2 linked regions of the Homo sapiens genome follow. The protein of the gene in region 1 purifies or fractionates together with the protein of each later gene. This does not show direct contact. Each region holds a gene or a part of one and is shown in the gene's direction. Other genes may lie near its edges.

The links.
Region 2: the proteins of CHCHD6 (region 1) and ERLIN1 fractionate together in Homo sapiens (co-fractionation; one large-scale study listed by BioGRID). This does not show direct contact.

What each region holds. Positions count from the first base shown.
Region 1 is NC_000003.12:126,952,240-126,955,739, forward strand, and holds part of CHCHD6 (MICOS complex subunit MIC25), read left to right. Parts: intron 1-3,500. UniProt on the Homo sapiens protein: Component of the MICOS complex, a large protein complex of the mitochondrial inner membrane that plays crucial roles in the maintenance of crista junctions, inner membrane architecture, and formation of contact sites to the outer membrane.
Region 2 is NC_000010.11:100,152,312-100,155,029, reverse strand, and holds part of ERLIN1 (erlin-1), read left to right. Parts: intron 1-90; coding exon 91-170; intron 171-2,677; coding exon 2,678-2,718. UniProt on the Homo sapiens protein: Component of the ERLIN1/ERLIN2 complex which mediates the endoplasmic reticulum-associated degradation (ERAD) of inositol 1,4,5-trisphosphate receptors (IP3Rs).

The sequences.
Region 1 (3,500 bases):
TGTGGGCATGGGGGCTGGAGAAGTTGGGTGCTCTGGGTGTGCAGCTGGACCAGCTGGGTGTTGGTGCTGCCGACCCAACTGAAATTCAGGAGGAGGAGATGTTGGGATGAGGGCTAGCCACATCTGGTCCATGTGGGCCCATGGCCACCTGCTGGGCTGCATGGCAGGCAGGGGACAGCAGGTCTTGAGCTGGGCACCATGCTGGTGTGCTGAGGGGACAAGGGCAGGGGCCACAGGTGGAGCTCGCACACAGGCAGAGGCCCAGGGTCCAGCAGAAGAGAACCAGAGTAAGTGGCCAGAGAGGCAGTGAGGGCCAGGCAGGTGCCGTCAGCTGAGCAGTGAGGCTCGGCATGGGGCCCAGGGGAGTGGGGCAGGGGGAGCCCCAGGCAGCACCTCTCTAAGCAAGGAGAAGCTGCTGTGGCCTGGGACGGAGATGGAGGCAAAAGGGGGTTTCGATTTGAAAAGCTTTTCCATATTTTGAGAGATGAATGTGTTTTGGATGGAGTGCGGGGAATGGAGAAGGTCCAGGAGAGGTGGTCAGTGGGAGAGGCCCGCTCAGGCACAGGGGTTGGGAAGGAACCACATGGGGCCTCTGGACTCTGCTGTGTCTGTGGTCTCAGCCGACAGGGTGGGGGCTCTGGGAGTCAGGCAGACCTATGCGGCCTGCTTGCCAGGGACCAGGACCCATGTGCCTTGTCTGTGGCCATCACATTCTCAGGGCCATCAGGAGGCTGGATGTGGGGTCTTCTGTGGTCCTATTTACTGAATGCCAATGATTCCTTCAGGGCCACACTGCGTTACTGAGCATGTTCTGACCGGGCCGTCTTGGGCATCACCTGCCATTCTCCTGCCATCCTCTCAACAGCTCTGTGGGGTGGGGTCCTCCCCCATACCTGATGCACCGACCACACAGTGGAAAGTGACAAAGCCAGCGCCTTGCCCCAGGTTTGTCTGATCCCAGAACCTGTGTTCTTTCCACTAGACCAAGAGTCCCAGCCTCAGACATCTGCCAGCTCCTTGTTGAAGAGACACCATGATTATGCAGACTCGCTAATGCCCTAACATGCCTGAGGAGGAGGCACCACTGAGGCTGGGCGAGGTCTGAACTAGGTCTCGAATGATATCAGAGCTTACGCTGTAGAGGGAGGGACCCTTTAAGGTAAGGTCCCACCCTCCAAGCCCTACGTTGGCAGTTCCACCACCCCAGCATATCCTCAGCTCTTCTCTGCCAAGTGCCTCCAGTAACCCAGCCTTTCTGCAAGCTCACCCCACTCCAGACCCTGGCCCCACCTCGGTTTCTCACACTGATGGCTAGGTTGCTATGAGAGCTGCACTTCACAGCATGCAATTCTGTTCTTCTATGGGGCAAGCGGTGTTACTGTTCCCATTGTACCAATGAGGAACATAAGAGCCAGTGAGGTGAGCCAACTTCCTGGGCATTGTCTTTGATGCCTGTGCAAACAGACACCCCATACACCAATGCGAATGGTGTGAACCCCTTCGAAGCCACATGGACCATTAGATCTTCATTCTCCAAGGAAATGTCCTTACACAGGGGTACAGGACTTATTTCTATCCCTGGCAAGTTTGTGGCACACTTTGGATACCTTTATCTGTGCATGTGAAGAGTAGCTGTTTGCAAGACCATGTTTCTGAACATGGGAGCTGTTTTGTATGCATTGTAAACAGGGTCATGGTGTGCCAGGGCTGGGAGGGGTTCAGGGTGGATAGAGTGCACCTACTTTTGTGAATGGCTTCACCGAAGGCCTAGCCCTGCCTTGCTTCAGAGAAAGCTTTTCATTTCCAGAGCTATGCTCTCCCTGTCTTATCCCATTCAGAGCCTTTTTGTGGACAAATGGGTGAAATTTCTTCCAGTTGACATTTGCCTTCCATTCTGTCTCCTCATATTGTTCTGATAAGTCCCAGGAGAGAGAGGCTGTCATGGTCCCACGGGCGATACTGGCAAGGAGGGGATAGATTTCGCCATGGCCCAGTTTCTCCTAAACTGGGAGCCCACTGCGAGGTTTGCCCTCAAAATGCAGAGGCCCTTGTCCTGGGACCTGAAACTAAAGTAGGAGAAGCCAGTGAGGAGGGGACACAGCCAGGCTGACCATGGGGAGAGGGGCAAATGTGGCTGTGTCTTCCTGCACATCGCCATTCTGCAAAGTGTCGGCGTCTCTGTTGTGCCTCTGTAGAGGGCAGGGCTCAGCAGGTCAGCCCTCCAGCTCCATGAGGCTCAGCCACATGACTCAGGCTGGGGCCACTTAGCCTCCGCCTGTCCTGTCTATGGTACCTCTTTTCACATAGATCAGTAAGCCTCACAGAGTTACAGCTTAGGACAGCTCTGCCCTGACTAAGCCTGGGGCTTCCCCTGAGCCACTCACCATGACACACAGGTCCCCTCAGTGCCTGCTGGCCTCCACGGTGCAGCCAGGAACCAGGCTCACCAGGGCCCCATGAGGGCAGGGTGGGGTCCTGCTTCAGGGGAGTGCAGCAGAGGCTATGATGGAAGTCATGCTCTGGGGTCTCAGACTCTAGAGGGCCAGCACCGTCAGGAGGAACAGAAGACACAGCAAGAGGCTGGTATGAGGGGACAGCAGTATAGGTGACAAGAGAGAGCCCAGGGAGACTGGCAGTGCCACTGAAGGCACCCACTGCCCTGCAGATTTAACCCTGCCTGGGGAGGGGAGAGCACAGCCTTCTAAGGCTGGAGACTCAGGGAGCAGAACAGGAGGGGAGGCCTCTGCGATGGAGGCAGAGAGCCTGGCCTGTGACTTGAAAGTGCTCCTAAAACAGGTGTCAGAACACTCAGAACCAAAGCTGTATGTGCAGTCCCTGAGAACACCTGCCTGAGACGAAATGCCATGAGGCCAGCCGTCCCCCAAGGAAGAAGCAGCCTAAAAAGCCCACAACTAGACACACCCATGTCACAGTTCTTAAATACAGATGTGGAGCCGTGCTTAAGCACCTGGAGACAAATCAGGGGCTGCCCCAGACACCCCAGCTGTATTCTTGCCCCAGCCGCCTGTGCGGCAGCTGACGCAGGCCAGTGAAGCGGGTCTCCGGAGCTGGGCAGAGGACTGCACACCAGGGGCTCATCTGCCCTGCATATGTAAGAACGAGAAGTCAATGCAGATAAAACCCCCCCCACCCAGTCCTCTTCAGGAAATAAGAGGACCCTTTAAGACTTGGTGCATGCAATGCAGACTTGAGTCAGAATTGTGACCTCAATGGCTAGGATGGGGTGGAATTCAAGGACCCAGGCCAGGGCTGGGCCACCATGGCCTCCCCTGGCAGGAAGGGGAAGGCGTGCTCTCCCTTCACATCCTTTACCTTGGCGCTGGTGTGGCATGGCAGTCACAGGCGGCTGCACCCCACCCCACACTCATCCCTCCCCGTCTTTAATTTAGGGACTGTTCGTTTTGTTCATGCCCTGGGGATGGGTCTTGCTGGCCTTAGCTGAACATGGGACACTCACTGCTCATGTTAGCGATGGTGTT
Region 2 (2,718 bases), on another chromosome or scaffold:
AATAAGCAGTCACAATATTAAGCAGTGGGGAAAGGGACTCTTAACTAGCTGAGGGAATGGATTGACACCTTTCCTTTGTTTATTTGCTAGATGCTGCATTCCTGGCCCGAGAGAAAGCGAAAGCAGATGCTGAATATTATGCTGCACACAAATATGCCACCTCAAACAAGGTGACTGGCTCCCTGGCCACTTTCCTAATGATGCATTTCGGGGTTTTGCTTTCTCTTTTCAGGAGCTCTGATATGATAGAAGTGATTTTATCCATTGTCAAGAAAGTGTAGTGACCAAGACATCCTCCAGAATTAGTCAGTTAGCAAGAAATATTTCACATTGATTGGGTAGGGACACAGGCCAAATGCCGTAATTCCATTCATTTGTACTGCTATATAAGGCTGAATAATTAATTAAGTTGAAGGTCTTCTGAAATAAGAGTGACAGAAGAGTAAAGTCTATTTAGAATTGCTTTCCAAATAAGGTAGTTTTTTTGGTAGATACTTAGCTTGATTAGAGCAGTATTTCTCATCAAAGGCATTCCTGGCATTTGGGGTTGAGATACTTTTTCATTGTTGAAGACCATCTCATGCATTGTAGGATATTTTGTATCCCTGGCCCTTGTCTACTGAATGTCAGTAGTGGTCACCAGTTGTTTTAACTGCCACACACACATGCATGTATTTCCATATGCCCCTTGTTGAGTACTCCTTGTTTATTGGATTTAAAAAACTATTCCAGTCATGAGGAATTTCATGTGGGATAACTTGAGAAGGCAGGTTGGGTGATATATAGGTGATAATTTGGTGTAAGGACTGGGGTAAGCTGGCTAGACGGTACAGGGCTAGTGAGCAGGGGCTATTTAAGAGGCAGCTAGAACTCCGATAGTATTCTGAGAAGGGAAGGGTATGTCCAAGATTTATAAGGTTATCGTGGAGCAGATTGGAACAGATAAAGGGTTGAGAAAGAGATTACTAAAGTGGATGATGCAGTTTGAAGGATTAGAGTCAAGTTTTAAGATATAGACAGGGCTTTTAATTTAGAAAGGAACAACATAATCCGTATTTAGAAGAAATGATAAGATGATAGAATGAGAGTTGTCAGTACTTTGAAAACCAATATAAATTTTAAAATGAACATAACATTGAAAGACACAGTTCTATAGACACAGAATGGAATTTGGCCAAAAGAAAGGCATGACAGGAAACTCCAGTTGAGGAAACTAGGAGTCCAAATCTAATGGGAGAAGCTCGTCAGGCACAAGTTTCAAGACCTTGCCATTGAGGTCTACCTTATTCAGAAAGGGGCAGTAGTTTTATGCCATTTTGAAAAATGTGACTCAGATACTAACCTATATTAAAAAGGCTTGAGGAAGAAATGTGGTTGTGCACTATGACCAGATTTGATTGGAGTGTTTCGACAGAGGATATGAATCACCTGGAGAAGATAGAGATCCAAAGAGTGAAAGATGTCAAAGTGTAGAAAATAAATGCTGTAGGACTGTGAAGGACAAGATGGACTTTTGCCTGGGGGACAGGCCAGGACTCAAGATAAGGAGAGGATCACAGAGCAGGGTCTGAGGGGCTTTGAAAGGCATATGTTACAGGGAACAGTGGAAATGGGTTTTAATCAAATCCAGATAGATTCTGGTTAGATACATCTTGGCATCCTGATTTAGACAAAACAAAACAGTGTGACAGAGGGAGATCTGGTGGTCGACGAGTTTTAATCAAACCCAGATAGGTTCTGGTTAGATACATCTTGGCATCCTGATTTAAACAAAACACTGTCACATAGATCTGGTGGTCGACAAACATCTGTCTGTCACAAGCAGCTTAAACATCCAGCTTCTGGGGAAAGGCAGAAGGCCAGATCAGGTGACAACTTGAGATTTTATTCTAGTTCTAGAATTTGTTCAAGAAAAGCAGAATCACAGCTAATGATAAGATAATGAGCACCAGCCCTTCCTTTGAAGTTCTGCTCTCATCCACTGACCTGTGTATCTCTCTCAAGAGAATCAACAGAGAACCAGGCATGATGGCTCATTCCTGTAGCCTCCCTGGAGGCTAAGATGAGAGTATCTCTTGAGCCCAGAAGTTTGAGGCTGCAGCAGCGAGCTATAATTGAACCACTGTATTCCAGCCTGGGCAACAGAGTGAGATCTCATCTCCAGAAAAAAAAAAGGCTGGGTGCAGTGGCTCACATCTTTGATTCCGACACTTTGGGAGGCCAAGGTAGGAGGATTGCTTGAGGCCAGGAGTTTGAGACCAGCCTGGCAACATAGACCCCATCTCTACAAAAATAAAAATAATTTTTTTAGAAAAGAGAATCAACAGAAACTCCAGACCAATTCCAGGTTGAATTCAACTAGATGAAATGAAAGTCACTTTAGAAATATTAGTTATTATCATTAGTTATCACAAATTGTTTTCCAACTCCCCCATCCTTTTATTAAAAAGTGAACAGCTTCTCTTGCATTAAGTCAGGAGCTTAATGAAGGAATTTTAAGTCAGGAACGCAGCTGTTAATGTGATAGCCACTCTCCAAAGTGAGAGAGGGTCATTGGCAGTTATTCAGACTTGACTCATGATACTCAGGAGAGCAATAGGTGAAATGTATATAGGGAGAGAGAAGACTGTTGCACCAGAGTATTCTGATGCCTTTGCTCTTGTTTGCTCCCACACAGCACAAGTTGACCCCGGAATATCTGGAGCTCAAAAAGTACCA